Regions from separate parts of the Homo sapiens genome. Here region 2 is linked to region 1. The links come from fine-mapping of genetic effects on gene expression. A gene starts in region 1. The other region holds a variant in brackets. All regions are shown on one strand. Distances are between the middles of the regions.

The links.
Region 2: its variant is fine-mapped to the expression of LINC03036 in adrenal gland (GTEx, PIP 0.94).

Annotation. Positions count from the first base shown.
Region 1 is chr10:119,021,474-119,037,118 of GRCh38, reverse strand. LINC03036 (long intergenic non-protein coding RNA 3036) reads left to right here and starts at 7,548. Exons shown (of 4, transcript NR_186540.1): 1 at 7,548-7,774; 2 at 11,259-11,322. NANOS1 (nanos C2HC-type zinc finger 1) reads right to left here and starts at 7,405. Exons shown (of 1, transcript NM_199461.4): 1 at 3,389-7,405. The coding sequence starts at 7,317. The coding sequence ends at 6,439. EIF3A (eukaryotic translation initiation factor 3 subunit A) reads left to right here. Exons shown (of 22, transcript NM_003750.4): 22 at 851-3,449. The coding sequence ends at 1,080. RefSeq lists silencers at 6,334-6,633, 7,004-7,213, 7,334-7,803 and enhancers at 7,628-8,128, 11,768-12,341, 13,527-14,169, 14,170-14,812.
Region 2 is chr10:118,945,875-118,961,519 of GRCh38, reverse strand. All of the region lies in intron 2 of LINC03036 (long intergenic non-protein coding RNA 3036), which reads left to right. Among named protein-coding and RNA genes, the nearest start is that of LINC03036, 76 kb to the left of the region's middle. RefSeq lists enhancers at 1,115-1,844, 1,845-2,575. The variant A/G (reference allele first, on the strand shown) is at 7,983.

The DNA.
Region 1 (15,645 bases):
GTATAGAGGTTACATACAACTGAAGTATTGGAGAACTGTCGTTTCTGGGGGGGGGGGGATTTGGGTTATTTAATTATATCATAAATTTGTATGAAGGCCAACAATAAGAGAGTTGATATTCTATTTAGAATTCATGATTTTCATACAGTTACTCAATGGTCATGTTGTAAAGTGCACTTATCTCTAAATTCAAAGTACAGTAGTAGACTAAATTGGATAGCAGGCAATATATATAAAGTTTACTTAATAAAAATGAAAAAAATTGTTATTTAAAAGCAGCTTCCTGGCAGATTAAGCACAAAGTAGAAACATTTTCTCTGAAATTGTAACAGAAGTTTATTCTGTTTTAAAATATATGTATTTTTCATTTTTAAAATCCTCATTTTTCTCTTGGTTTTTAAAAATTAATTTTCCATATGTCTTGACATCCTGTTATGAGAGAATTTTTCTCTCATAGCCATAACTTTAAAAACTCCTGTATTTTGTATGGTTAATTTGCTGTTAAAATTCTTCAAGAGCCAAAAATCCTTTCAGTTATAAAATTTTCATTCAGCCAGATTTTTGCCACCTTGTCTTACGGGTTTATACTAACTGTAGTCCTTCCCAGGCTAGTGGTTTCTGCCTGTTTTCAGATTTTGAGTTTTATCTGTACATTTGTATGTTAAAGATTGTCAGAAATTGTATGAGCTTTCATTATGATTTCTGTATTTAACAATACAGAATTTAACAGAATTTCTGTATTTAACAATGATTTCTGTATTTAACAATCTTTAGTACAGGAATTTTGAGTAATTTGAGCCAATAGAATATAGTACTAACTTAATTTTTTTTTTTTAATTAAACTTTTTAGTAAGTTCTTGGAGACGTGCTGATGACAGGAAAGATGACCGGGTGGAAGAGCGGGACCCTCCTCGTCGAGTTCCTCCCCCAGCTCTTTCAAGAGACCGAGAAAGAGACCGAGACCGAGAAAGAGAAGGTGAAAAAGAGAAGGCCTCATGGAGAGCTGAGAAAGATAGGGAATCTCTCCGTCGTACTAAAAATGAGACTGATGAAGATGGATGGACCACAGTACGACGTTAAGTCTCAAGATAATGGATTTAAACTGGTGTCTTAAATAGGTTTGATCACATTCAAGGATTATTATACTTGTGCTTCAACCAATCTAAATTGGATTCTTTAATGTTGTTTCACCATAACACAAAAAGCATGAACTTGTATTAATCCTATATAATAGATTGATCATGCACCATATCCACAGGAGGTTGGAAAAACCATGCCATTTTCTGGAATTTAAGGGTGTTGCATTATTTCATCAATCATTTGTTGACAAAAAAGAAAAACTAAAAAATAAATTTAAAATGTGACCCTTCAGGTATTGAGTAACACCTTTATCTTGGTATAGAACTGATACTTTTTTTTTGATTTTGAAATATCTGATAATAATTTGGAATGAAGTAAGGTTCTGTTAAAATATATTTGAAGACCCTTTAAAGCAGTGAATCTGAAACAATTTTCACACCCTTAAGTGGTTGATACGTACCTATTTTAGGTATTTTGAGGTATTTACCATAAACTAAATTTAGAAATTTTTTAGATTCACTTGAAGTAAACATTACAAACATTGGATACGGTGGGGTTTTCTTTAGATTTTACTTGAGAGAAGGTGAGTACAAAGCAATTTGCAGTTGTTGTAATGACAAGATTACTGCGCAAGTGTGAATCCAAACAGTATAGCTTTTAAATTTTAAAGCATTTGGTAAATTATCGCTGAGTTTTTTTCTGTTGCCAATAGCAAACTGCTTTTCCATTAATGGAGAATTCATGCCTTTCAAGCATTTTAAATATGACAATATTTATAAATGTATGGTTTGGAGGAATCGTTTAAATTCTCTTTCCTAATTTTCTTTCTTTTGAAGATAGATTCTTTCAACAAGTAATTTGTAGTAATGACTGTGTTGACTTCAATTTTGGAGCGCAGTAGCTATGTTAAAGATGAACTATTTGGTCTCATTGAAGCCAACACAGAACTTGCTGCTGTGTTTTTTCTTCAGTGATAAATAAAATACTTACAGAATTTGTTTTAGTGTTGATTTGTGGTTATAGTATTTTGTTTATAATGGTAAGTTTGCATATTCAGTTGAGTTTTTTTTACTTGAATTTTTATCAGTGCCATTAAATGTCTGTGTTTAGTATCAATGAAAATGAACCTAAATATAACAAAGAAAGCATATGTGGCTAGGATGTCCCCCTAACATGTCTTCCTTTGTTAATGCAGGAATTCCTTAGTTTCCTTGTAACGCTGTCCTCTGAGTTTGTGTGTGCATGTGCGTGTTTGAAGTACCACCTTGGGTTTTCACCTGAAATTAGAAAAATCGTAGTTAATTTGAGAAAATGTTACAAATTCATCATGGCTGTAGGCACTTATTTCTGTTATTGAGTAGTGGTGAGAATTCCTATTGGTACAGCTGTAGGGCCAGAAGAGGGAGTATTGATGCTTTTTAACTTAACCAGATGCAGCTATTTTTGTTTGATGTTACCAATGATAGAAATCATTTTAAACACCTTAGTATCTGGTATTTCAAATACGTAGAAGTCTTTAAAGGTCTTTCGTGGGGAGAAGGACTTTTCTTTCATAACAAGAGAATTTCAGATCAGTGATTACAAGTGGGGCAGTAACTTGCTAAGAGTTTGCTTCCTGGAGAGTAGATCTGTATGTGTGACATCACAGGTAAGCCCCAAGAATTTATTTAATCAGATTTGTTCAGACGAGTTACTGCTGCCTACGTTAGAGTTAGATTTCAAGGCGAGTCAGCAAACCCATCCTTTCTGCTCAGTCTCCCGTACTGTTCTCCCAAGTTCTTTGTTCTGGGAGTCAGAACCCAAGTGCAAGAGGAGGGCAGAAGAGTCTGATGCTGTTACTTTGCGATCCTGCTCTTGGTTTCCACTGTCCAGGCCATACAACTCTGTCTACTCCCATTAGTATTTACCAACAGGTGTTAAAGGAAAGCTGAACAAGCAGCCTACTCACCGATCTGCTAGGTGGTCTTCCATGTTCATGGTGGCTTCTGCAGTTTCATTGAGAGTAACATTGCTGTTAATACAGATAGATCCAGTAGTAGAGACATCATCGGTCCAAAAGACTTTGCATCTCATTAGTTGTCCATAGTGACTACCAGGAGGTGGCTGGCATCTATAACGTGTGGGACGTTTTTATGTAAAGAACTGCCTGTGTTTTTTTTTTTTTTTAACCAAAGACACTGACCATAGATTGACTTATACTTTTATAAGTCTAATTGAAATACTTGGGGTACTATGAAAGGACTGTTCCTTGAGTGGCTACGATTAGAAAATCAGGACTAACAAACTTTTCTTTGTCTGGAAGCATATATATTTGTGATATAATTTTAATATGTATAATTTTGGTTTAATAAATCAAATCTATGACAAAAGTTGTTCTCATCAAAGCTAATAATTCTGCAACTTCCAAAAAGGACTTTGTAGGAAAATTAAAATACAAAGAAAAATAAAAGCCACTAGAAATTTTAAGTCTGTACAGAAAAGAACAGGTTAAGACAATCTGTACCTCTACAGTTGGAGAAGCCCTTTTGACTCTTCCCTGTATTGTTTTGCTACTAGGCAAGTATGCAGCATGTTCTTATGAAGATAATTTTGTCATACTTTGTATATTTCTTAAACTTTGAAAAATTGGGTTTCTCTAAATGTAATTTTGCAAAATGTTTAAAGTTCCACATTGAGTTCCAAGGATTTTTAAATGAATGTGTTTACATATACTTTTCATAAGAGAACCCTAGAAAATTAACTATAGTAATACTCTGCGTTTTAACTCCCAGTATTCATTGTCAGCTGGAAAACCTAGGCAAATTTGGCACAGGGGCTGAACATGGGGTACTTTTTTTCTTTTTTGGAGACAGAGTCGCTCTGTTGCTCAGGCTGGAGTGCAGTGGCGTGATCTGGGCTCACTGCAACCTCCGCCTCCTGGTTTCAAGCAATTCTCCTGCCTCAGCCTCCTGAGGAGCTGGGATTACAGGCGCCCACCACACCACCCGGCTAATTTTTGTATTTTTAGTAGAGACGGGGCTTCGCCATGTTGGCCAGGCTGGTCTCCTGACCTTGTGATCCACCCCCGCCTCGCCTCCCAAAGTGCTGGGATTACAGGCATGAGCCACCACACCCGGCCTGAAAATGGGGTACTTTAAAAATAGATGAATAGTGGCTGCCTGAGTAGTGGAGAGGGTCTTCTGGATTCCTTTTCCAATACTCTCCTGCCCTCAAGAAGCTCCAGCTCAATATGTTCTTAGTTCTGGTAAAATAGCAATGTCAGAATATCAAATTAACATTAGGCACATCTCATCACAGTGACTCCCATATATTGAGGCTATGCCAAAGCCCCATGCTCAAGACCTTTGGAAACCGTCTGTAATTTGACTCTGAAAATACAAAGTAGCTAAATTGATCTTGCCACCTGGCTAGCCCTTTTGGCCTAGAGAATGCGCTGATCTGTTCATAGTGGTCCTTTTGAAAAGGCAGAACACGAGCAGTGAGAGAGGTAAGAGGATTCATGTTGACCTTAGAAACTTCACCCAGAAGGTGAAGCTCATTTAAACTGGTAGATTTTCTATAGCAAAAGAAAGGAGAACAAGTAATTACATGGTTTCATTAAGCTACTTAATTTAGGCCCAGTCAGATCTGCAGTTCTCTCTGGTCTGGGGTTAAGACTAGCAGCGTTGGATTATTTGTCTTTCCTGGCTAAGAAACATTGTGCTTTCCTCCTGCCCCCCAAGTTCTTGAAATGCACCTTTTCTTTCACCAAAAAGACAGCTATCGGGTATTTACCCCATCCTCTAACACACCTTCAAATGAAGGTTCCTGATTGAGTCAATTTGCTGTGGATGAAGTTAGCTGTTTAATGCGAAAGCAGTCTAACTTCTAGTAGCCTAGCTAAATCCTACTGGGAGCCTTATACACGTAGACTAAACTCTTGCTGGTATCTTCAGATAGTAATGCATTTGTGTATTTCAGATGAGTTCATCTTAATTCACTTCCATTTTTTGCCTTCTATTGCCTTGCTTGGCAGGTAGCTGCATTCCATAGTGTGGCATTCAGTATGGTGGATTTAAAAGTGAGGGTGGGAGGGTAAAGTAGGGGTTAGGAACTTTTGCCCAAGGATCAGGTTTAGTCTTGCTTATGGGTAAACTGGTGGGGTTCCGGAAACCGACATGGGTCTTCCAGTAGGAGTGGGAACACATGAAGGACCCCCAACAATTCCTTTAATTAGTGCTTATTCTAGTTTGAGCACTGCCTGTATTAAAGTCAGACGCAGCCCACGGTGGAACCTTCTTGAATACGAGTTAATACACGAATAGCTCAGAGCTAGAGATCCATCTTCTATTTGTTTGACAGGCAACAGCTGGAATGGGCTTTCCTCCACTAGGAACCCTGAAATTGAGTAATCTAGGGTGAATTAATACTGCTGTCTTCCCTTCCTCCCTTTGATCTTAATATCATAAACGTTTTTAAAGAACTGGAAGAGGGTGAGTGTGTAGAGAAAATGCCAAGTAGGAAAGTTACAGGTGAGATTAATGAATTCATACTGTTACTGTATAAATACACAATTTTTTTAAACAGCACCATTTCCAAGTTATACACAATATGATTATGACTTGGCACAACTTTTAAAGGTGGAAAAGGCTAGTTGCTAGTTCAGTAATAAAATACCTGGTACATAGAACGATAAGGAGCTGTATTCTACCTGCTACACATTGTGCATTTTACACCTCCAGCTAGGACAGAAACAAGCCACAAGCGGGGAATACCCGCCCAAATTAATACTGGAAAGTTTACAAAACCTTCACTTCTCATAAGGGTGATGCTACCAGCGGCTTGCTTCACCTGGAATTAGAGTAACTGATTTTTAAAGACAACTGAGAATATTAACTCGCTTCAAACAATAAAATAGTCATTTTGCCGACATTTCATAAAATCGCCAGTTTTAAGCTCAGTTCAGAGGCTTTTAAAAAAATATTCTAGACCTAGTAAAGTGCCTCCATTCATAAAATGAAACATCCAAGATTGAGACAATTTCATACTGATGCGCATCTAAAATAGGTCGACGTATACAGTAAATAAACAGCGCCTCTAAGTTGCCATATTTCAGTTAGTGGAATACACACCCAGCCTTCGCCGTTCTGGATGTGCAAACTAGAAACTGAAGACAAATGGGGATTTCAGCGTCTAGTCCCAATCGTTCAGCACGGAAGTACTCCACACGGTCGGCTGCTTTTCAAAAACCACCAGGACGACGTCCCATGTCGAGCCGACCGCTGAGCCGCACGCCTCCCCACGGCGGGGGCGAGATGGTGCGCAGACCTAGCGGTGCGAGGGGCGGCGGCGACCCTGGGCGGCCGGGAGCCCGGGCCTTCAGCGCAGCTTCTTGCCAGGCGGGCCGTCCCTGGCGCTGCGGGGCGGCGGGCGGGCGGGCGGCGGCGGCACTTTGGAGAGCGGGCAGTACTTGATGGTGTGCGCGTTGTCGCCGCTGGCGCCGCACAGGGGACACGTGTAGCGGCGCAGCACGGGACACAGCACTCGCCCGTCGGGGCCCTTGAGGATATGGGTGGTGTAGAGCGCCATCGCCTCCTTGTTGTTCCGGCAGAACACGCACACCTGCAGCTCGGGCTTCAGCAGCCGGGCGGCCGCCGCCCCGGAGGCCGCGTGCAGCCGGGGCTCGGCCGCCCACGCCGGGGCCCGCTCCTCGCGCGGCGTCGCCTCGCTGGTGGTGGTGGCGGCGGCGGCGGCGGCGGGCGCGCAGCCCAGCAGCACGGCGGCGGCACGACCCGCGAACGGGCTCAGCTCGGCGAAGCGCTCCTCCAGCAGCCCGGCCTCGGCGGGGCCCGCGCACAGCTCCAGCGCGCGCAATTCCAGCGCGCTCCCCAGGTAGCGGCCCCGGGACCCCGGCTCGTCGCTGTCGTCGTCGTCGTCCTCGTCGTAGTCGGGCGGCCCCAGCGCCGGCCCCAGCGCCCCAGGCCCGGCCCCCGTGTGGGGGGAGCAGCAGGACGACGAGGAGGAGGAGGGCGGGGAGCCGCCGCCGCCGTTCCCACCGCGGGCGCAGCCGAAGCGCGGCTCGCCGTCCACCGCTTTGGTGATGAGCGTGGCGAGCCCCAGGTAGTCGTTCCAGGAGCTGAAGGGCTGCGGGTGCGCCGGGCCCGGGGCGCTCACGTAGCGGGCGCTGGGCACGAGCGCCATGGGCGGGGGGGCGCGGCCGCGGCGGGGCGAGCGGGGCGCCCAGGGGAAAGCCTCCATGGGCGGGCTGCGGGCCGCGCGCCGCCTCCCCGCCGCCGGCGCGGGCCGGACGGAAGGGACACGCCGAGCCTGCCCGCCGGCCTGCCGCGGGGTGGGGCCGCCGCGCCGCCTTTTATCGGGCCCACTCCTCCCCGCCCCCCGGCCTCGCCGCCGCGGCCCTGCCCCCTGCGTTCCCCCGCCCCGGCCACCTCGCCCGCGCCCCGGACGGAGGCGGAGCGGAGGCGGGCTGGCTGTGTGCGCGCTCCGCTCCAGCCCGCGCGGCTCCCGCGCCCCGCGCGCTGCGCCAGCCTCGCCAGCTGTCGGGCGGCCTTCATTCCGGGAGGGGGCGGGCGAGGCGCCGCCTCGAGCCGTGGCGCTCATTGGCTGCAGACCAGAGCCCCCCGGCGCCTCGGGCGCCGCTCCGGACGCTGATTGGTGGGAACACGGGGAGGGGGCGTGTTCTCCGCGCAGCTGGGAGGTGAGGAGAAAGTAGGGGAGAGAAGGGCCGGGAAGGGAGGGCCGCTGGGGCCCGCATTCGAGCGCCGGGCCTGGGCTTGGAGCAGGTGACCAGGCCTGGGTCTCCTCGGCCTGGTGGTGAGGCCCCCCGAGGACAGGGGTCAGGGTGGCCACAGGTTTACGCCCCCACCTCCCAGCCTTTAATGGCCCTAGGCCCTAATCCTGAGAATCCCCGCTATCCACCCCCTTCTCACCAACATCAGCATGAAAAGCTGGACGCGTTGGAAGGATGCAGCTCTCCCATCACAGCCGCCCAACCAGCCAGTGGCTTCCGTTTGCACCGCGCGTTGGAGCGCTTTCCCCTGGGCGAAATCCATACAAACCCTGAGGTTCGGGGAGGCTGTGGTTCCTGCCGCGGTAAGAGCGGAGGGACGCAGGACTTTCCGGCTGCACGCAGCAGCCTTCCTCCCAACAGGTGCTCAGGGACTTCAGCCAATGGGTGGCCGATAGCCGGTTACTTAGGTCGGGGTTGGGGCTGGGCCGGAAAATCTCATGGCTGGAGAGCCTAGGACAGTGACTGGGATGTGTGTGTGTGTGTGTACCCCCTCGCCCCAGAGGCCTGAGTCAAAATGTGGGTTGTATGTGCAGTTTGAAAAACAACGTGTATTCAATGTTATATTTTGTCTTCCTTCCTTCCTTCCTTCCTTCCTTCCTTCCTTCCTTCCTTCCTTCCTTCCTTCCTTCTTTCCTTCCTTCTTTCCTTCCTTCCTTCCTTCCTTCTTTCCCTCCTTCCTTTTCTTTCTTTTTTTTTCTTTTCTTTCCGCATCCCGGGTTCAAGCAATTCTCCTGCCTCAGCCTTCCAAGCAGCTGGGATTACAGATGCCCGCCACCATGCCGGGCTAATTTTTTGTATTTTAGTAGAGACGGGGTTTCACTATGTTGGCCAGGCTTGTCTTGAACTCCAGACCTCGCGATCCGCCTGCCTTGGCCTCCCAAAGTGTTGGTGTTACAGGCGTGAGCCACCGCGTCTGGCCTCTTTCTTTCTTTCTCACTCTTTCTTTTTTCTTCTTGATTTTTCTTTTTTCTTTTTTTTTTTTCTTGAGACAGGGTCTCACTATGTTGCCTAGGCTGGTCTTGAACACCTGGCCTCAAGCGATCTTCCTGCCTTGGCCTCCCAAAGTGCTGGGATTACAGACATGAGCCACCACACCTGGCCTCAACATTATAATTAAATACTTTGAAATGAATAAAACATGTTGTGTAAAAGCCATGGAGAATAAGAGCCAGAAGATGAGTTTTGATTAGGAAGATGGCAGGTGGTCTTACACTTCCCAACTTTTTTAAAAATTGAAAGTAGGAAAGGCTTTAGATACTGAGGGCTCTTCTAGGATGAAACCTAGAACTGGGATCAGGAAAATGCCTCCCCTGGCAGGTGGGCCCTGGCAGGGTGGGCTTCATGGGGCAGATGGGGCTTTCCTTCCTCACTCTGGACCATGCAGTGGCTGTGGAAACAATGAGCCCTCACTAGGCCTGAGGCCACACTCACAGGTCTTGGCTGTGCCCAGCAGGTTTAGAATGGCTCAGCAGGGGATGCCCAGAACCTAGTGCTGGCATTGGTTAATATTAGAATGAATGAATGAGGGAATCAGAATGTCAGCATGGGAAGGGATCTTTGGGATCATTCTGTTCGATCTTTTCTTGCCTTTTTCTTTTCTTTTTTAATAGATGGGGGTCTCGCTATGTTGCCCAGGCTGGTCTTGAACTCCTGGCCTCAAGTGATCCTCCTGTCTTGGCCTCACAAAGTGCTGGGATTGCAAATGTGAGCCACTGCACCCAGTTCTGTCCAATCCTTACAGATGAAGAAAATGAGACCTAGAGAAGAGTAGGATTTCTTTTTTTTTTTTTGAGACAGAGTCTCACTCTGTCGCCCAGACTGGAGTGCGATGGCACGATCTAGGCTCACTGCAATCTCTGCCTCCTGAGTTTAAGCGATTCTCCTGCCTCAGCCTCCTGAGTAGCTGGGTTTAGAGGCATGTGCCACCATGCCTACCTAATTTTTGTATTTTTAATAGTGATGGGGTTTCACCGTATTGGCTGGTCTCAAACTCCTGACCTCAGGTGATTTGCCTACCTTGGCCTCCCAAAATGCTGGGATTATAGGTGTGAGCCACCGCACCCAGCCAAGCAGGACTTCTTTAAGGCTACAGTGACTATGTGACAGAACTAAGACTCTGGTCCTGTTACTCCCGGCCGGGTGGCCTTCTCACTACACCCTGGACCAGCAAGGTATCTCAGACAATAAGTCTGTGCATGCATCCGCAGAACTCTAAGGCACAACACAGGGGAAGCTGGAAAGAAGTGAGGTGAGGTGAGGCGATATGGCCTTGGCTGGGGCCCCTGCCCTCAAAGAGCAATCCAGGGCTCTGGCTGGCAGGCGCGGGAAAGGACCTGAAGCAGTGAAGTGAGGCCTGTTCTGGCCGCCTCTCTGGGTTAGGGGTTAAAGATCCATGTTTCGGCCTCTTCCTTCTAGCCCCCGATGGTTGATGTAAGTCATGAAACCAGGCAGTAATATTCAGCACTTGCCAACCCAGATCCTTTTCCAAGTTTGTGTTGGCATGCAAGGTAGAAAGTCATTCCTTTATTTCCTCCCCTTCTCCACCAAAAATAAATAAAAGAACCTCCATGCCGCAGGGCTCCTGCAGACGCCTGGCAGGTTTGCTGACCCTGAACTCGGAGCTTTTACCACGAGAACGCCAGCCCCCCAGAGTGGTATGAAGATGATTATTCTATGAATGGAAAATTCCGCTCGGTTCACACAGCCCTGCAGCCTGCATCCTTTCAAGACATGCAGACTTTTCAAGCTCTGAAGATGGGGAGCCACAGTTCTGAGAATAACTTTGGCAGGAAAAGTTTAAAATTGCCAGCTGCTGTGTCTGATCCCCCTTGGTCAGGCCAGAGAGGCGATGGCACAGAAGCGGAAGCCTTCTTGCCTCCCAACATGGTTTTCGGCCCTTGTGGTTGTACGGGGAGAATAAAAACTTTTAAGGGATAAGAATAGGAACAAACACCTTGGCTGGGACCTGCAGCCTGGGTATGTGGGAAGTGGAGCTGGGATGGAGATGCCCCAGAAGGAGGTGGAGAAATGAGTGTGTCTTGGGGTCCGCCATGGGCTGTTTCCCCAGGCTGCTCCCCTTGACTGCTATACGAGGTGAGTAGACATTTGACCCAGAAGGGAAGTCGGGAAGTGGAGGCCAAGTGCATGAAGGCTTTTGTCGTGGAGCACACGCTGGGCCTCAGTACCCTGGGAGCCTTTGCTCTCAGTGACCATAGAAAGGCCAGTGTGGGCACCTGGCCCAGCTCTGGGTTAAATAAACAGTGACTTTTGTCACCCAGCAACAGGCCTCAGCCTGGCTGTGAGCTCTCTAGCTCTTTGAGGTGTTGGCACGATTTCAGAGATGTTCTTAGCACCTCTGATGAAGTCTCACTGCCTTTTGCTCACTTTCCAGGAGTCTGGAATGAAACAGATGGAAACAGCCAGTCTGTGAACGTTTCTTCAGGTATCCGGCAGAGGTGAGAAGACAGGTGGGCATGGGCTACACCTCAGAAGTTAGAGGGTGCTGCTTGGTTTCTTCTGGAGTGGGGCAGTGGGGCCTGCCTGGCACAGGCTGAGGGCTCTGGCAGGGCAGGGGTGGGTGGTGGGGAGGGTGCCTGGGTTCTGTGCTCCCACCTCTCCACATGGCCCCCAGCCCGGGCCATTTCCTTTGCTGGCAGCAGAACTGAACCCTGTGAGGCAGCTCACAGACCTCAGGCTCCTGAGGCTCTTCAGAAACATGAGGTCAGCCCTGGGGAATGAGGCAGCTTGGCCGGGGTCCAGGCGGCTATAGCGATGCTGTTTGTCAGGTTCTGGGTTCCCGCTGACCCCCTGCCAGGACTTTGCCAGGGACAGGAGGTGCTTTGGCTCCGTCAGCCATGGGCCTGGAGGTGGGTGAGGTGCATTTGGGCACGAGGAGCCCTCTCCTGGCTGACTTTGTCCACATCATGGCTCTGTCAAGCTCAGAGAGTCCTGGGATGGGGCTCCTGCCCTTTGGGGGGCTTGGGCTTAGGGTCTGCTGTTGTGGAGAAGCCATATGGTGAAGTGGGGAGAGCTTACTGGGCCTCGGGACAGGGTTTGCACCCTGGCGCTGGTGCAAAGTCACGTGTAGTGGACAAGGGGCTTAACCTCTCTGGGCCCCAGATGCTGCTTTTGGTCAGTGAAGGGCTCTTGTCGAGTAAAATGGCAGCCACTCCCCCTCCTTGCAGACTTAACTTTGTTCTGATTCCTTCCCTCAGCCTCGGGGCATAACTGTGACAGGTTTAAGCAGAAACATCCCATTTCCCCTAGTCACCACTGGGTAAGGGGAGGGCTGGTGACCCATTCTCACCCTGGAGATCTCAGCGGACATCTGCTGTCTGCTGGGAGGATACTGGGAAGGGGTTTGCTTCCTTATATAAAAAGGGGGAAGAAATAAAGAACCAGGGCCCTCACCTTCTTCAGCTCAGGCTATAGAGCTGAGGTGATAAGGCTTAAGGACACAAAGCTGGCGCAAGGTGATGGCTTACCAGAAAAGTTAAAACAAAAAACAAACCTTAGTGATATTTTTGTTGATGACTTGGTGACTTGTTACACGAGATAATTATAACATCTCTATTATTTCAGCCACTTCAAGTCAGGTATCCTTTTATTTATTTATTTATTTGAAACAGTGTCTCACTCTGTCACCCAGGCTGGAGTGCAGTGGCATGATCTCGGCTCACTGCAACCTCCACCTCCCAGGTTCAAGCGATTCTGGTGCCCCAGCCTCCCGAGTGGCTGGGATTACAGGCATGCACCACGATGCCCAGCTAATTTTTGTATTTTTAGTAGAGACAGGGTTTCACCATGTTAGCCAGGCTGGTCTTGAACTCCTGACCTCAGGTGATCCACCTGCCTTGGCCTCCCAAAGTGCTGGGATTACAGACGTGAGCCACCACACCACGTCCAGGTATCCTTTTATACGTGCAGTTGACTTCATTCTTAATCAAGCTTGTCCAACCTGTGGCCAGGTGGCCTCATGTGGCCCAGGACAGCTTTGAATGCGGCCCAATACAAATTTGTAAACTTTCTTAAAACATTATGAGATTATGCACAGACCTTTTTTAATTAAGCCCTTCAGCTGTCATTAGTGTGTTTTATGTGTGGTCCAAGACAGTTCTTCCATTGCGGTCCAGGGAAGCCAAAACATTGGACACCCTTGTTCTAAATGAAACATGTAATACTGTGAAAAAAAATACATTTGGTTATTCTGTCGAAAAGGTAGGCTACCATATTCTGGCCAGGTGGAGGTGACGACCATGTCAGAATTCTCTGTGTGTGGACAAGGCTGGAAGGGGATGCGGAGAATGGGAAACGGGTGCCGTGGTGTCATCTCACACCCCCTGCCTTGGGCTAAAGTCTCCCAGCTGGTAATAATACCACCACCATCAGCACCAGGTGCTTGACATGCACTATTCCATGTGCCCCCCACCCCCAACCCTGCCCCGCAAGGCAGGTGCGCTGGTGACCTGTTGGAGACGGGGGCAAAGCTCAGCATGGAGCCCAAGGCTGAGAAGCTCAGGAGCAGCAGGACTGAGATTTGCACCCATTTTTCTCTCACTCCCCGAACCTGGGTTTGTGCCTCCTTGGATGCACCCGGTCATTCTTGGGACTTCTGGGGTCCAGATGTGCGGGAGACTGGCCAGCAACACACAGCGGCAGGGGCAGGAGAGGACACATTCCAGTCCGTGTCAGCAATGTCCCCTGAACAAAACCAACCCCATTTAAAAGCAGTCTGGGTGTTTCTGTTTATCCAGTAGTGGGTACTTTGGTAAAGTGAGTAATCCTTTCTCCCTCCAGCACTTGCCCTCCTCCCTGCCATGTGGTTTTCTTTTAGAAATCTGGAGTGTCCCAATTTTGTTTAAAGCAGGAGCTGCCTGGAGGCTGACAGGCGGAAGGGCAGATGTCCCTGGGCTGATGATGCTGATAATAGCAATAACAGTAGCTCACAGGTGCTGAGCCCTTACCGTGCACTAAGCATTCACTCATATCATTTCTGAAATCCTCCCAGCAGGCCTACAATGATAAGCATTTCACAAAAGGGAAAATGAGGTTTTGGGAGGCTAAAAGCATGCCCAGCAGCTCACAGCTAGCTGGTAGGTGGCATTTCTTCAAGGCCCGCACTGTTAACCCTCACACCTCCTTGATCATCCCCTGGCCCGTGGATACTCATTCATTTGGAATTCACTACATCCGGCCTCCCCACCTCCTCCTGTGCTTCCCTAAATGGGGCCATCAGCCTTCTCTCACCCGTCGTCAATCCCTGCTGTCTGCAGGGGGAGGGAAGTAAAAAGCTGACAGGAAGGAGTTACATGTAAAATGGTAACCTGTAGATTGAGACTGTTCTCCAACAGGTCTGAGGGCTCTAGGCAGAGGGAGGGGAAGCGGGGATATGAGGGCTGTGGAAAGGATGGGACCAGACTGCCAAGCAAAGAATGCTATGTGTGGTTCTGCAGGTTGTGTACAGTTCTGCAGGTTGTGTACTGCACAACCGCTTCCCATCTAAGGGGGCACCTTTACTTCATAGACATAGTAACTCTGTGATCATTTTCTGGCCGACCTTGAGTAAAGTATCTTCTAACGAAATCAGTATATTATGACACTTCACTGACAGATGGAAAAAGATACCTTGTGGAAGAAGTGTCTTTTCCTAATTTGCTCAAAGCCCAAAGCTTTGGCTCTGGCCGAGGTGTGAAATGCTGAGCTTCTTGAAGGCGGGCCTCAAGTTTGACATTAGTACCCCTTTTCTTGTTTCCCCATTCTGAAGCTTCAGGTGGAGAGTCTCCTGAATTCAGCTGATCAGGTGCTGGGCACAGTTCTGCCCTGGTTGTTACTGGTGGATCAGCTGCCCCTTGGGACTAACATTTAACTTTATTTTTGAGACAGTCTTGCTCTGTCGCCCAGGCTGGAATGCAGTGGCACGAGCTTGGCTCACTGCAACCTCTGCCTCCTGGGTTCAAGCGATTCTTCTGTCTCAGCCTCCTGAGTAGCTGGGACTACAGGCATGCACCACCACGCCTGGCTAATTTTCATATTTTTAGTAGAGATGGGGTTTTGCCATGTTGCTCAGGTTGGTCTAGAACTCCTGGGCTCAAGCAGTCCGCCCGCCTCACCCTCCCAAAGTGCTGGGATTACAGGCGTGAGCCACCTCGCTGGGCCGGGACTAACATTTTAAAGATTGCTCAAGTCATTTTAGCCATCTTCTTCTGGTCTTATCTGATTTGCACTGATCCTCTCCCAGCCGTCCTGAGTTCTCCAGGGATTTTGTGTGCTCGGAGCTGCCTCTCCACAGTTGTGTCTGTCTTCAGGCTTCTACGGCTTAGTGACCAGAAGGCAGGTGGGCCCCAGGGAGCGGATGGAGGATCCAAGCTCTGTATAAATTGAGTAGCCTCGAGCAAAATCAGTTCCTGTCTCTGGATCTTAGTTTTAAATTTCAGTTTAAAATAATTGGGCTGGCCTAAGTGATTTCTTGGCCCTTTCCATCTCTAAAATTCATTTATTTACCATCAAGGTCTGGGGATAAGTGGCAAATAAGACTGACGTACTTCTGACCTCATGGAGCTTACACTCGAATTGGGCAGACAGACAAGTAAACAGGCGATGACACTTGGTGGGGGCAGGTTCGCTTCCTGTTGCGGTTGTAACAAATTACCACCCATATAGTGGCTGAAAACAACACACTGATTTTCTCAGCGCTCTAGATGTCAGAAGTCCACAGTGGGTCTCACTGGGCTGAATTCCCTCTGGAGGCTCTTGGCGGGGAACCTGTTTCCTTACCTTTC
Region 2 (15,645 bases), 76 kb after region 1:
AGGTGTTCAGTGAGCTCTTTCAGCGTGGAATGGGACAGGAACAGCCTGTGTTGCGGGGTCAGAGGTCAGAGCGAGGGGGTGCTTGGGGGTCCAGGCTTCAGGAACCTCACTGGACATTTCTCACCTTTCTCCTCAGCATCCCCTCTCCTCTGCTGACAGGTGAGGCACAATTCCAAATCCTGGTGTTACTAAGAGGGTTGGTGGCATTCATGAGTCAGCGAGTCATTTTATTTTTTTAAATGAGATTAAAAAGTTCTTTTGCAAAGTACAACATTTCTTCTGTACAATTTATTGTAACCAGGGGGCATTTTAAAGGATAGGTGCTCAGAAGCTGAAGCACCAGAGTGCTTTCTAAACCAGAATAAGGCACACTTCCTCCCCATGGCTGCTGCTGACCTGAAAGCTACCAGTCTGGAGAGCCGAGGGCACACCAAGATCAAGGGGCTGGAGCTGTCGCTTAACAATCTGAGGCCACGGGTGATAAGTTCCCCCATCAGGTGCACTTCTCACTCAGGGTGGGGGTAATCGGCTCCAGATCCCATTTTAAAGGGGTGCACCTGCTTAAGATAGTCAAATGTCCACCTGAAAAGTACCCTACCAAGTTTTCCATGAATCTACATGAGGAGGCCTCATGAGAAATGCTGCAGATGCAGGTGGCCCAGCTTGGGGATCTGCCAGGATGCTTTTTATGGGTGGAATCACCTGCATCCCTTCCAGATCCCCAAGGCTTGGAGAGAGGACGCCCCTTATCACAGCTCCTTCTGCCAACTCCCAATGAGAAATGATGTCCCCACGGCGGGGGAAGAGATGGGTTTCACGTCCACCTCCTGCCATCTTGCTCAGGACCACACCCAGCCCCATGAAGAGGCAGGCAGGGTACTTTTCCAAACCAGTCCGCTTCATGGTGGGGATAAAATAAAGATGCTCTAGGTTTCCCCTCATGCTGTGTGTGCGTGTGCACATGTGTGTGTGCACGTGCGCATGCGTGTTTCCATTTAGGGACTGGGTGAAACTCAAAGTGAACTTTCTTGGAATTTCAGTGGAATTTCTTGGCAGGGCCTTACCTTGGGAAGGAGGAGGCAACCCGGAGGCCTGGGGCCAGGGCGGGGAGGGCGGATGTTCCTGTGGTCTCACCGGCTGCTTCTCCCCTTTCCTGGAAGCCCCAAGCCTGCCTTTGTACTTAGCTGGACCTGCTCTGCAGGACTGAATGTAACTTTGTGTAACTCTTGCTGAATTGCTGGAGGGCTTGGGCTGACTCCTACCCAATGACGATGTGGACACCACTTAGTGCTTCCTTATGCCTAGGCCAAGTGCTTGATACACAGCAGATCCTTTCACCCACACAACAGCCCTGTGTGGAAGGTACTGTTCCTTTCTGCATTTTCCAGATATGGAAGCTGAGGCCCAGAAAGGTTGTTTAACAGCCCACGGTCACTCAGCTAGGAATAAATGGAGTCAGGATTTGAATCCAGACTTTCCAACTTACAGCGTGGCTGTGGGTCAGAGAGCTTCCTTGATGGCAGCTGGCTTCGGCTTCTTACTCTGTTCCTCCCCAAGTTCCCCAAAAGGCCCTTGCTGTCTCCTGGCTTCTAAGTTTCTGCACAGGTGCATCCTTGGGCTGAAACAACCACTCCTGTATCCTCTCATGGGTATTCACAAGGCACACTAGCATGTTAAAGTTACTTCACCTGGCTAACTCCCACTTGTTCTCAGAACCTGGCTTAGAGACTGCCTCCTCCAGGAAGCTCTCCCTGAGTACCACCACCTCCAAAGTCCAGGCGGGGTACCCCTACTGGTACTCCCATGGCATCGGGCCTCCTCCTAGCAGGTTGTTGCCCACTGCTGTTGCCGTGGGGGTGCTGCTTGTCTGTCTCCATCAGTGCAAGCTTCTCAAGGGTGGGGTCTGCTCCTGTGTTTGGGGAATGAGTGGTTAACTCTTGTCTTTTGCTGCAGTGTCTAGGATGATCCATCCTTTGTTTCTGGTTAGGGATGTGGCCGGGTTGCTGGGGGTCCATCCCTCCTCCCTTCCTTGTGCCTCAGTTTCCTATCTGGAATTTCAGGAGACTCACAGTTACCCCTTGTAGCATTGTCATGAGGCTTTAAAGAGTGGATACAGATAGAGCCTGTAGAACAGCCCCGGCCATGTGTGAGCTGCCTTTACTGTGCTGGGTGCTTTTGATGCCAAGGAGGGGTGGGGAGGCTCGGCCCAGGCTGACCTACTTCTCCTCAGGCACTGCTCTCGTGGTGAATGACTCAGCATTTTGAACTCTGACTTCTTTCTTTAGGAGCCAGATCATTCTATTGCCATACCAAAGATATTTGGCAAGGTTAAATGCCAACTATGTGTATGGGGGGTGGTGGGGGGTGGCTGGGGAGGGGAACGGGGACACACGCGGTCCCTGGAATTCAGTGCAACACAGGACTGGAAGTCACACTCTTGCTGCAGATCTGTAGAGCACCAGCTTGCAGCCCCATGAACCTAAAGTGGCCCTGAGGTTATCCCACAGGGAGGCAAATGCATCTTCCATATGGGGAGCTCCAAACTCCCTGAACATGGGCCTTTTCCTCTGTTACCACTGGACTCGCTCTTGCAGGATTTTCCCAGCTCCACTCTACAGAGGCAAATCCCACCAGAGGCTCTGAGAAGAGGCTTCTGTGGTTACATAAATTTAGGACAAAATAAAAAATCAAAACTAAAAAAACAAAAAAATAGAAGTAGGACAACCATTCCTGTATCCGCTCATGGGTATTCACAAGACACACTAGCATGTTAAAGGCCCTGAGAAGTCGTGCAAGAAACTGTTCAACTGTTCCCTGATTACTTGACCACTGTATTAGTCTGTTCTCGAATTGCTACAAATACATACCTGAGACTAGGTCATTTATAAGAAAAGAGTTTTTTGTTTTTTTTTTTTAGAAGGAGTCTCACCGTGTCTCTCAGGCTGGAGTGTAGTGGTGTGATCTCAGCTAACTGCAACCTCCGCCTCCTGGGTTTAAGCGATTCTTGCGCCTCAACCTCTCGAGTAGCTGGGATTACAGGTGTGCACCACCATGCCCGGCTAATTTTAGTATTTTTAGTAGAGACGATGTTTTGCCATGTTGGCCAGGCTGGTCTTGAACTCCTGACCTCAGGTGATCCACCCGCCTCAGCCTCCTAAAGTGCTGGGATATCAAGCGTGAGCCACCATGCCCCGCCAAGAAAAGAGGCTTAATTGGCTCATGATTCTGCAGGCATGTATAGGAAGTGTGGTGGCATCTACTTCTGGGAGGGCCTCAGGGAGCTTTTACTCATGGCGAAAGACAAAATGGGAGCAGGCGTCTTACGTGGCGGGAGCACGAGCAAGAGAGAGAGAGGGGAGGTCATGCACCCCTTTGAACAATCAGACCTTGTAAGCACTCACCATCATGAGACCTGCACTGACGGGATGGCGCTAAACCATTCATGAGAAATCCGCTCCTGTGATCCAGTCACCTCCCACCTGGCCCCACCTCCAACACTGGGGATTATAATTTGACATGAGATTTGGGCTTGGACACACATCCAAATCGTGTCGACCACAGAACCCCTTTTCACATATTTTTCCAGGTCAACCATCAACAACCGTCGACATCCTGCAGTTCCAGAACACACTTTGGGAAACCCCCCACAAAAGTGGCTGGCGCATGGTTTCCATTCAAATGGTTAAATCTACCTTTGGAAACCTGGAAAGAGATCAGTGAAAATCTGTCTTAGTGTCCTAGAGCTAATATCAACCAAGTACTCCAAACTGGGTGGCTTAAAACAGCAGAACTTGATTGTCTCACAGTTCCAAGGGCTACAAGTCCAAAATCAAGGTGTCTGCAGGGCCGTGCCCCCTCTGAACCCTGCAGGGGAGGATCCTTCCTGCTCTTCCAGCTTCTGGCGGCTGTGGGCAGTCCTGAGTGTTCCTTGGTGTGTGGCGGCATCACACAATCTCTGCCTCTGTCTTCACCGGGCTGTCTTGTCTCTGTGTGTCTGTCTTTGTGTGTCTTCTCTTCTTATAAAGACACCAGTCATATTGGATTAGGGGCCCACCCTACTCCAGTGTGACCTCGTCTTAACCTCATTTCATCTGCAACGTCCTTATTTTCAAATAAGATCATATTTCAAGGTAGTGGAGGTTAAGATGTATCTTTTTGGGAGACATAATTTGAACCATAACAAAAACCCATCCGTAGCAGGTGGCTCTGGGTTGGGAGTTACTGTAACCATCCCAGGGGCTTTCTCTACTTTCCAAGATCTGGCAGCGATGCCACTGTGTCCAGTGAGTGTCTACTGCATGCTGGCTGAGTCACAGACACCATCTCATGGAACCTTACTGCAGTCCTGAGCACTGGGGTCTATCATTCTCCCAGGTTAAATGGCCCAGCAAGCCAGGGGTGAGTTGGGGTTTAACCCCAGGGTCTGTGTGCCTGCACCATCCTGGTTTTTATGATCTGTGCTGTGCGGCTTCAGGTGGGTATGAGCAGTCGGGCTTCAGAGGAAGTCACCATGCTGCTGTCAGATGCCTTTTCCACTGACACCTGGAGGGGCCACCCTGGAACTGGAGTTTCCAGCTGGGGGTGGGGCCTGAGCTGCTGGAACAGGGAGTCCATATGAACAATGTGTGCCCATGTCCACAGGGCATGGTCCCAAGTGACTGTCACAGCAGATCCAGGGTGTTGATGGGAAGGCAGAGCACAGGCCTGGGAATTGGGGAGGGGAACCAGAGGGACTCCCCAGAGGCTAGAGAACCAAGCAGGAAACCAGGAGCCCAGGGTCCTTGATACGGTCCACAGATGTCGCAGCAGCTGTTGGTCCCTGGCCATCTCACCTGTGCACTCACCTTTCCATTGTACGCAGGTGAGTCCTTTTCTTGGAAGCACCTGCTGCTCTGTTGGGCATGTGCTCTGAGACATTAACAGATGAACAATGACTCCAGGAGCAGCCCTCAACCCAGGATGGATGAAATTTGGTGTATAACCCCCCACCCCCACCACATGCCCTTACCCCCAGGTTTCTTCCCTTCAGGAGGGTAACTGATGAGTGGTCTGTGCCATCTCCTGGAGGTCCCCAGCAGGCTTGGGCCCCTCTTGCCAGGCAATAACCTGCTCTGGAACACAGCCTTCCTGCCTCTTTGCCTCAGCTATGCTTCCTGGGAGTAGCTCCCAAATAAACTCCTGGCACTTACAGCCTTATCTTGGGGTCAGACCCCAGGAGGCTGGCTGGAGCCTGTTCTTCCCTCCTGCTTCAGGCAGAGTTGGTCCCAGGGCCTGGGGAAGAAAGGAGTGGGAGCTGGTGAAGGAGGAGAGACTCACAGTTTGCCACCAGGGGAGGCTTAACATTGGAGGTTGTGAGCAACAGAAACTCAGCTGGAGTTTTGGTTTAAACCAAAAAGGGAAATACCAGTTTATGCAACAGAAAAGTTCTGATGAGGGTGCCAGCTTGAGGCACAGCTGGATCCTAGGGGCTCAAGCAAAGTCATTGCATCTCTTTCCGTCACCCAGCTCTGCTTTCCTTGTGGCTGGCTTCACTCTCAGACAGAGGGGGTGTTCTTCACCTGGTGCCCCCTACCCCAGTCCCAGGTTTATTTTCCACCTGCTTAGCAACCCCAACAGAAAGACTATGCCTCTTTTCCAGTAATTTTAGCACAAGTTCCGGTCCTCACTCTCAAAGTCCTGAGTAAAGGACCCATCTCTGAACCAATCCCAAAAGCCAGGCTGCAGAGGTAGTGGGCTGACTGGCCAAGTGAGGTCCTGGACCTGCCCACCATGGGGGATGGGATCAGCTCCTAAGAACTGAACCCTGGAGTCTGAGAAGGGGGCATTGTCTCTTCCTGAAAGATGGGCTTTGTCGCCTGTGGAAGAGGGCATGGGAGGTGAAAGCAGCTGATGAGGATGGGCAGGTTGGACTGACAAGTGCCAAAGGAGCATAGGACAATCGAGATAGGAAGGCACAAGCCACAGGCAGAGGGAAGGGAAAGGTGCAGAGGGCTTTCTTGTGGAGCCCAGGCTGTCAGATGCCTGCCCTGATGCTCTGTTATGAGAAGGCAAGGCGTTTTTAAAAATTAAGGGGGAAAAAAGCATTTGCTTCGTTTTTGGGGTTTGTTTTACAACTTTTAATTTTGAAATAATTTTAGATTTCCCCAAGAGTTTCAAAGATTATGCAGAGAGTTCCTATCCACCCCCACCCAGTCTCATGTTACCATCTTACATAGCATGCTGCATTCATCAAAACTCAGAAATGATCATCGGTATATCATTACTATTAACTGACTACAGACTTGATGCAGATTTCTCTAGTTTTCACCACTAATGTCCATTTCTGTTCCAGGAGCTAATCTGCTAATCTAGGATCCCACATTGCTTTTAGTTGTCATGGCTCCTTAGCTTCTTTCCTTCCTTTCTTTTTTTTTTTTTTTTTTTTTGAGATGCTGGGAGTGCAGAGGTGTCATCTTCGCTCACTGCAGCCTCAACATCCTGGCCTCAAGCAATTCTTCCATCTCAGCCTCCCAACGTGTTGGGACTACAGGTGTGAGCTACAACATCTGGCCCTTGTTTCTTAGTTTCGTCTGATCTGTGATAGTTTCTCCATCTTTCCTTGCCTTTCATTACCTGGATACTTCTGAAGAGGAGCAGTCAGGTGTTGAATAGAATGTTTCTCAGTTTGAGTTGACCTAATGTTTTCTTTTTCTTTTTTTTTTTTTGAGATGGCGTTGTCGCCAGGCTGGAGTGCAGTGGTGTGATCTCGGCTCACTGCAACCTCTGCCTCCCGGGTTCAAGCGATTCTCCTGCCTCAGCCTCCTGAGTAGTTGGGACTACAGGTGCGTGCCACCACACCCAGCTGATTTTTGTATTTTTAGTAGAGATGGGGTTTCACCATGTTGTCCAGGATGGTCTCGATCTCTTGATCTCATGATCTGCCTGCCTCGGCCTCCCAAAGTGCTAGGATTACAGGCGTGAGCCACTGTGCCCGGCTGATGTTTTCTGATATGTAGACTGAGGATTGGATTTGGGGAAGAAGCTCACAGAGGGGAAATGTCTTCAGTGCATCGTATCACAGGGGTACAAGATATCAACATGCCTTATCACTAGTGATGTTAACCAGGGGCTCACCTGGTTCAGGGGCGCCTGCCAGGTTTCTCTGTGAAGTGTTTTTCTCTGTCCATACTCTATTTGGAATGCTGGGATGTGGATGAGTTTTGTCCTCCCTAGGAAGGGAGCAGCCAACATTCTCTCTCTCCTCCCCGGTTCTTGCTCTTCTCAGAAACAGGGCTCCACTTACATCTGCTGCCAGATGTTGGAGCAAACACTAGCCTTGTGTTCTCTGTCACTTTCCAGGAAGGCTGGCTGTGGCTTCTTGGCAATGAGGGACTCTGAATCGCAGCTCTATCCTTCTCCCATGATGGGGAGAATGGGCTGCACTGTCTGCCCTTTAACAGAACTGGTGTGTTTCAAGTGCAGCTGGTTGGGGCTTGAGCTGTGCACATCTGGCTACTAATTGGAAAACCTGACCCAAAGCCAGATGTGGTCTCACCCCAACTTCCTAGCAAAAGTTTGTGTTTTCTCAGTGATGAAGAGGGTTTGCTCAAGGAGCTGGGAATAATGGAGTTAACCTAGGAGGGTAGCTAGTGGCCTCTCACTTGCTGGGAGGAGATGGATGTCTCTAATAAACAAAGGGATGGTGTGGGCGGGGGCACTTCAGGTGACACCAGTGGAGGGCTCACAGTTAAGGGACAGGGATCAGGGCCCATGACACTAGCCCTGGCCCACCTTGGAAGCCATTTGTGACAGCCTGTTTGTCAGGTCATCTGCTGACCTGTGGCTGCTCTGGAAGTGACACAATTTGCAGATTTAGGTCTTGTTTGCAGTTATGCTCCAAGGATAAGCAATTGTCAGAGTGAGTAAGACTCTGTGCTTTTAGAAGAAGCACAGCCTATTACAATAACTGTGGTTGATGACCCTGAAAGATTGGAGGTTTGTGC[A/G]ATTCAAACCTCTGATGGAATTCAGTCACTTTAGTTCATATCGGCATCGAAGGACAGGCTGAGAAGAGAACACTGGATTTGGGTTTGGGGTCAGCTCAGGTAAGTTCAGGCCTTGGCTGTACCCTTTATTAGTCTAGTGTGACCTTGAGCAGCCACGTGACCTCCTGAGCCTCACATCTCCTCTGAGAAATGGGGATAACAATAGTGCAGCCACATAGCCCTGCAGCTCAAGGGCCATTTGGCTTTGAGGTAGGAAATTAAAAAAAAATTATGCATGAAGGATATTTTCTGTTTTGTGGAAGGAAGAGAAACAAGGCTTCTTTTGAGGTGTGCCTGGGGCAGAGATGTACACTGGGGAGGGATTATGCTGTCTGTCTCCCCCAGCCCTTGGATGGAACAGCTGGTTTTGAGCCCTTCTAGAAGCAGGAAACAGAAGTAGCTGCTTTGGTGAAACACTGTGAGATTTAGGGCTTAGGCATCTGCTTGCAGGGGGACCATGTGTGACCCCGACTGAGAGGGCCCCTATGCCATTGGAGCCTGGATTCAGAGGGGCCAAGAGAGCAAGGGCTGGCTGGTGCCTGGCAGGTTCTGTGCACTGGGCACATTGAGAGATGACATCTTGAGCACTATGACGAGGGGCAGGTGAAGCCTGTCACCCGAGTGGCTTGTGGGCTGCAGTGAGGAGGCCAGGGTGGAGAAAGGTGACAGATTGTGCCTAAGCCCATGGGAGACACAAGAATGTCTGGGAGCACCCAGGACAGAGGTTCAAGGTGAGGCTGAGACCCTGAGGGTGGTGTCTGGACATTGAGACCATCCCCACCTGCAGGGCAGCCAAGGACACTTGGGCCAGTCTGTGACCTGCCCTGTTAGGCTGGGGGTCAAGTGACAGCATCTGTGACAAGGCATTCTGACCACTCAAAGGTACCATGACAAACTCCAGTGCACCCCACTCGGCCACCTCTTCGTGACTCCAAGCCTCAGTTTTCCCATGTGTAAAATGACCTCCTTCACCCAGGGTTGTTATGAGAATCAAATGGTAAATATTATTTCTTCGTAGAGATGAAATGACAAGTGCAAAGTAACACAGCTAAGAGCATTGGTGGCGGCTCCTGACTGACCTTGTCCTATTCAGGGTTGCATTCCTGCAGAGCCAGTGCTCAGTAAATGTGGTTGAAGGAATAAGCAAATGCTCTTTTCCATCATTCCATATTATCTCATTAGTGCTCAAAAGTACCAGTCGGCGAAGTCCTGATATGAACACACTCTCATGGAAATAGAAGACAGAACTTGAACTCTGAGCAATGAGTGGCTAATGGTCATTGGGGGCTGGCCCTGCCCGCTCTTGGGTATTGCTTCCTTCCATCTTTGCAATGATCCTGTGAAGTGGGACCTATTACTCTCATTCCCATAGTGTAGACAAGGGACCTGGGTCTTGGAGGGGCTAGGTAATTTGCCCATAGGGAGGCTAGAGGAAAGGCTAGGATTTGAACCAGGTCATTTACTTCAGAGCCCAAACTCTCCAACCCTTCATTTTGTGGTTGCTAAGAGCAGGCCCAGTTAACCTGCGGGTGGACCACGCTTAGCCCCCACCTCTGGTTAACCACCCAGGACCCCCACTGCACCACACTGCTAATGAGCAGTTTCCAGGAGGTAGCTGCCAGGCTACACCAGGCCCTAGGCTTCCTCCAGGAATTGCATTAGGGGATTAAGAAACAGAGATTGTTTCAGACTAGCTATTGGAGCCAACGATTATTATTTTTTGTACAATGGGTAAAATTTTCCTCTCCTTCTGTGCTCCCCTGCTAAAAGACTCAATTGAATAAGAGAAACAGCAGCATGTGTTATTTGAAAACTGTTTAGTGCAATTACTGCTGCAGATTTTACTGAATTTGAAAATGATAGATGGCAAATCTTAATTTCCCAAGCTCTCCATCCCGGCAAGCAGTTTGTTAAAGACTAGCAGTGCGGCTAATCGCTGGTGCATAATGCCCACGAATACACGTTTTTCCTTTTTATATAACACATTATGCTAATCACCCTGTATTCCATTTTTCAATAAAAGGTCAGCAGAGCAGTGTTTGTTCAGAATGTGCAATTTAAACTTCATGTCTGTCATTAGAGATAATCTAGGTTTGCTGTATCAAGTGGGGTTGTCATAGAAACCAGACCCGCAAGCTCTGTTTACGGCCTTTGGAGAATAAACACTTTGCATTTATTTCTCTGGAAAGGGGAAAAAAACCCCCCAAAATCATCGCACAATTAAGTAAGGTTTGAAAACAAAGCAGTCATAGCCCAGAAGAGAGAGCTGTATCATTCATCAAAAATCAATAACTGTCACACAGTTGGTATACGGGGCATTCAAGCAGGTGACTGACGGAAGTGATCAAATATTTCCCCTGGGAAAAACAAGTAAGGGAGAGAGGATGTGTTATTATGCCGAGTGAAGAATTAATTTAAGGATGCTAATGGGCTTTATCTAAGCTACTATACCCTCAAAAAGTGTTTTGTGTAAATTGCATTGAGCACCTGATCAGGCTTTTTATGCCATGTGTTTGGACATTCATGTGTGAGCCCCATATAGCCCAGATGATTCCCATATTATGGTTTCTCTCATCTTGCTTCTGTCATTGATGAGGACTTTCCCTGGAAGCAGCTCAGGGGTCCTGGACTTCAGCATTTAAGATCCTGCCTGAGTAGCATGACCAAATTTATCAAATACAAAATACAGGATGCCCGATTAAATTTGAATATTTTTTAGTGTAAGTATGTGCCAAATTTTACATGGGATACACTTATACTGAAGTTAGCCATCGATTATCTGGAATTCTGATGTGCCTGAGCCCTGTATTTACTCTGCCACACTGTGCCTGAAGGGTCTGAGGAGATGGGAGGTAATTCTCTAACCTCTCCTGCCAGCCTCTGGCTTGTGCTTCCTTTAATAGGGGACTGAAGTGTGTGCACAGGATGTGTGTGCATGACTAATCCTGTTAAGTCACAGCGTAACTGTGGCTCTAATTTGCTGAAAGCACCCACAAAATCAAATTCAAAAAAGTTGCTCACTTGGAAATGGCCAAACACCCACTTGGCATGGCCACTGCATGGGGGAAAGCTTTTGTTTCTGTTTTTTTTTTTTTTTTTTTTTTTTTCCCCCACTGGACCTCCTTCAAGGAAAGAACTCCCCATCCCCAGTTCCTTTGGGCTGTGGGCCAGAGGAAAGGCCTGAGGCTTATCTGTGTGATGTGATGTGCAATCCAGAGCCAAAAAGGTGGGGTTCTGTGAACCTTGACCCTGGCTGAGGGCAACCTTACTGTTGTAATCTCTACTGCAACACAACTCACAGAAATCTGGTAATTGGCAGAAGATGCATTCATTAGACAACTTTATTGGATTCAGGTTGATGGAGCTAGGTAAATACTGAGACACACATTCAATTCAACATGTGGGAATTTAGCATTCGGGGCCGTGGGTCAAGTGTCTTGGGGGACCCAAAGGATGGTCAGTCCTCAAGGATGGCTTTGCCAGTTGGGAGAGTTGTGCACAGATGTCGTCTTAAAACCAGCAGACAGAGCCAAGGGCTGAGCAGAGGCGGAGACAAAATGCCGTGGGAACAGAAAGAAAGAAGAGATGAATTTCATCTGGGGAGTCTGGGATGTCTTCTTCGAGGAAGGGGATTCTCAGCTGACCTTTGAGGTGTCTGTGAATTTGATCAGATTAGTTAACATTAGAAAAGCTGCCTGGAGGCTGATATGTTGGCCTGTCTGGAGTTGGACTTAGCAGAAGCTTCCCTTCAGTTAAAATCAGAAAATCAGAGGAGTGGGGAAGTTCAACCCCATCCTGAGCAAGAAAGCAGAATGATTAAGAATGGACTCTGGGCCTGGCACGGTAGCTCACGCCTATAATCCCAGCACTTTGGGAGGCTGAGGCGGGCAGATCACCTGAGGTCAGGAGTTCCAGACCAGCCTGGCCAACGTGGCAAAAACCCGTCTCTACTAAAAATACAAAAATTAGCTGGGCGTGGTGGCACATGCCTGTAATTCCAGTTACTTGGGAGGCTGAGACAGGAGAATCACTTGAACCTGGGAGGCAGAGGTTGCAGTGAGCCGAGATCGCGCCGCTGCACTCCGGCCTGGGTGACAGAGAGACTCTGCCTCAAAAAAAAAAAAAAAAAAAAAAAAAAAGAATGGGCTCTGGAGCCGAGGAGGCCTGGACTTGCATTCCAGCTGAGTGACTCTGGGGAGCCATGCCACCTATTTGTGCCTGTTTCCTCCCCTGTATAATGTGGATGTTGGTTGTATTTTGCCTCATAAGGTGGTTGTGAGAATTACAGAGATAATGTAATTAATTTCTTAGCGCAGTACTTGGCATGCCCTAAAGGCTTGAAAAGTTGTGTCCTTATTATTTCTCTGTTGCTTTAAATCCCTCAGATTCTGATCCTGCCTCCAAGCCTTTATCCAATGTGAGCTCGATGCCAGGAGTGCCTCTCCTTGCCAGCTGCCACCCCTGTCACTCCTGCCTTCTCTGCCTTGGCTTGTCTGCACCCCTGCAGCCTCTGCTCCACCCCTGAGCTGATCCTGGCAGGGGGCTGCGAATCCTTGGACTTGCCCTCAGGTCTTAGCTCTTGTCACTGCTCCGGATCCAGGTCCTAGATTTCTGCATGGACTACAGTGACCCCTTGCACAGCCTTGCCCTGTGCCCTGGGCCCTGTTCTTTGGCTGCTGGTTTGGCTCTGTGTTCTCTGCTAACCCCTTGTCTTCTCTGTCTTTGGGACTGGAGTCCTTCCTCAAGGAAGGATTAGAGCTGGATTTGCAGAGGGAGGGAGGGGGAAGTCCTTCCAGGTGGGAGGAGCAGTTGTACAAAGGTAAAGAGATACAAAAGCGGGTGGTAGGTTTGGGAAATGACAAGTAGTTAGAAAGAGGGAATCCAATATGCTTACGGAGGGAGATCCAGGGATAAGGCAGAGAGGCAGATAAGAGAGAAGGATGGAGTGCAGTGGTGTGATCTCGGCTCACTGCCTCCCAGGTTCAAGTGATTCTCCTGCCTCAGCCCCCGGAGCAGCTGGGATTATAGGCGCCCACCACCACGCCCAGCTGATTTTTGTATTTTTAGTAAAGATGGGGTTTCACCATGTTGGCGAGGCTGGTCTCGAACTCCTGACCTTAGGTGATCCACCCGCCTTGGCCTCCCAAAGTGCTGGGATTACAGGTGTGAGCCACTGTGCCCAGCCTCATACAGTTCTTGTGAGGTTGTCAATCATGGTGACCCACACTCCTGGGACCCAGCATGTTCAACCAAACCTTGTGATCCTCTTATTCAGGGTCTGGGCATGGGGTGCACGCAGAGCTAGTCGGTGCTCCCTGAGATTGCTATATAGATAAGGAGAGAAATTCTCTTTCCAATGACTTCACTAAATGTATCAGTTATTTACTGCCACAATAATGCTGTGTAATGAGCAACCGCAAAACCTCAGTTACGTACAACAATGAACATTTATTTAGCTCCCAAGTCTGTGTGGCTTGGTGGGGCTTGGCTGGGCTCACTCACATGGCTGAACATTGGCTGCATGTCTGCTGATCTGCGCTGGCTGTGGCTGGTTTGGCTGGAATAGCTCAGTGCAGCCCCACGTGCACCATCCTCACTGGGCTAGCCCAGCATGTCCTGATGGAGCAAGTGAAAATGCACAAGTGCTTTTTCTTTTCTTTCTTTCTTTCTTTCTTTTTTTTTTTTTTTTGAGACGGAGTCTCGCTCTTTCACCCAGGCTGGAGTGCAGTGGCGCGATCTCAGCTCACTGCAAGCTCCGCCTCCCAGGTTCACGCCATTCTCCTGCCTCAGCCTCCCAAGTAGCTGGGACCGCAGGCGCCGGCAACCACGCCTGGCTAATTTTTTGTATTTTTAGTAGAGACGAGGTTTCACCGTGTTAGCCAGGATGGTCTTGATCTCCTGACCTCGTGATCCGCCCGCCTTGGCTTCCCAGAGTGCTGGGATTACAGGCGTGAGCCACCGCGCCCGGCCCTCACAAGTGCTTTTTCAAGGCTCTCTTGCTAACATCCCATTGGCCAAAGCAAGTCACATGACCAAACTCAGACTCAAGGAATGAGGAAACAGACTCCATGTCCTCAGTAAGAGGAACTGCAAAGTCGCATAGACAAGGCATGACTTTAGGAGGGCTGAAAGAGTGGGAAGATGAAGGCAGTTTACTCTGTCACACTACACTGAGCTAGGAGGATGTGATTCAAGGGCAGCTGCTGACCATTTTGCCTCTCACAGGGAGAGAACATACCAGAGAATGAAACCAGGCAAAAAGACGATGAGCCAAGTAATGGGGAACAAGCCAGAGACCTGATCCAGCTTTACCTGCAGTCTCATTCCCCTTGGGCTTCTATGAATTAGCGGGTTCCCTTTTTGATTCAGCTTGGTGAATTGGGTTCTTGCCAGTTGCAATGGAAAGAAGCCTAACTATCATTGCTCTGATTGCCAGGCAAAGATGTTTGGATGCTAAAAATGCTTGAGGAGAGAACCAATATAATCTAACTCCCTGTTTGAGGAATATAATTGGGGGTAGGGTGAAAATTATGAAACCGTTGTAGTAATTCAAACACAAGAGTGACGAGACCCGAATTAGGAGGAGCAGGGCAGTGAAAGCAGAGAGAAGTTGACACAGGTAACGATTTGCAGAGAGAGAATTAATGGGATTTGCTGGCTGGGTGTGAAGTATAATGAGAAAGTGTGAAATAAAATAGAAGTGGGCTTTCTCACCTGGAAGATGGGGTGGAAGTTTTGGTGGTTTGCTGGTGAACTGGCTTTCCCCAAAAACGGAGCCCCTGATTGTAGTGTTTGCCAATTTTTTGTGGCACAAATATTGCCACCATGGCAGGTTTCAAGGGACCAACAGTTTAGCAACCAGCAGGGAAAATTCCTGAGTATTTTATAGTCGACTCTTGGGAGCCAGCACAACCCGCTCCAGCACACCAGTGGTCCAAAGTGGTGGCGATTTCACACAATAAAGAATGCAGCTGGATTTTGGATACCTTAAGTTGGAGTTGCCTGCAGGTCCTGCAAATGAAGATGTCCAGAGAATGTGGAAATATGGCTCTGGGACTCAGGAGAGGTTCAGTCTACGTAGAGTTGTTGGAGAGGCAGCAGCATCATTTTTGGAGAAAATAATGATGAGATAATGATGACATGGCATTGAGTGTCCTTTGACTCTAACCGGGGTGAGGATGACTGGCAGGCCTAATCTGCCTCACAGGTTGATTTTGCTGGCTCAAGTGGTATTACTAAAAATTAAAGTTCATTGCTCTATTACTTTCCTGGGGTTGTTGTAACAAATTACCATAAGCCAGATGGCTTGAAACAACAGAAATGTATTCTCTCATAGTTCTGGAGGCTAGACATCCAAGAATCTGAAAGGAAGGTGTGGATTCCTTCTGATTCCAGCAGGGCTGGTTCCTTCTGGAGGCTCCGAGAGATCACCCCATGCCTCTCTCCTGACTTGTGGTGGCTGCTGGCATCCTCGGGGTCCTTGGCTTGTGCATGCATTGATCTCATCTCGATCCTTACCTTAATTAGCTTATCAAAGACTCTATTTCCAAATAAGGTCACTTTCCTAGTTTCCAAGTGGACGTGAATTTTTGGAGGACACAGTTCAACCCACTACAGTTGCCGG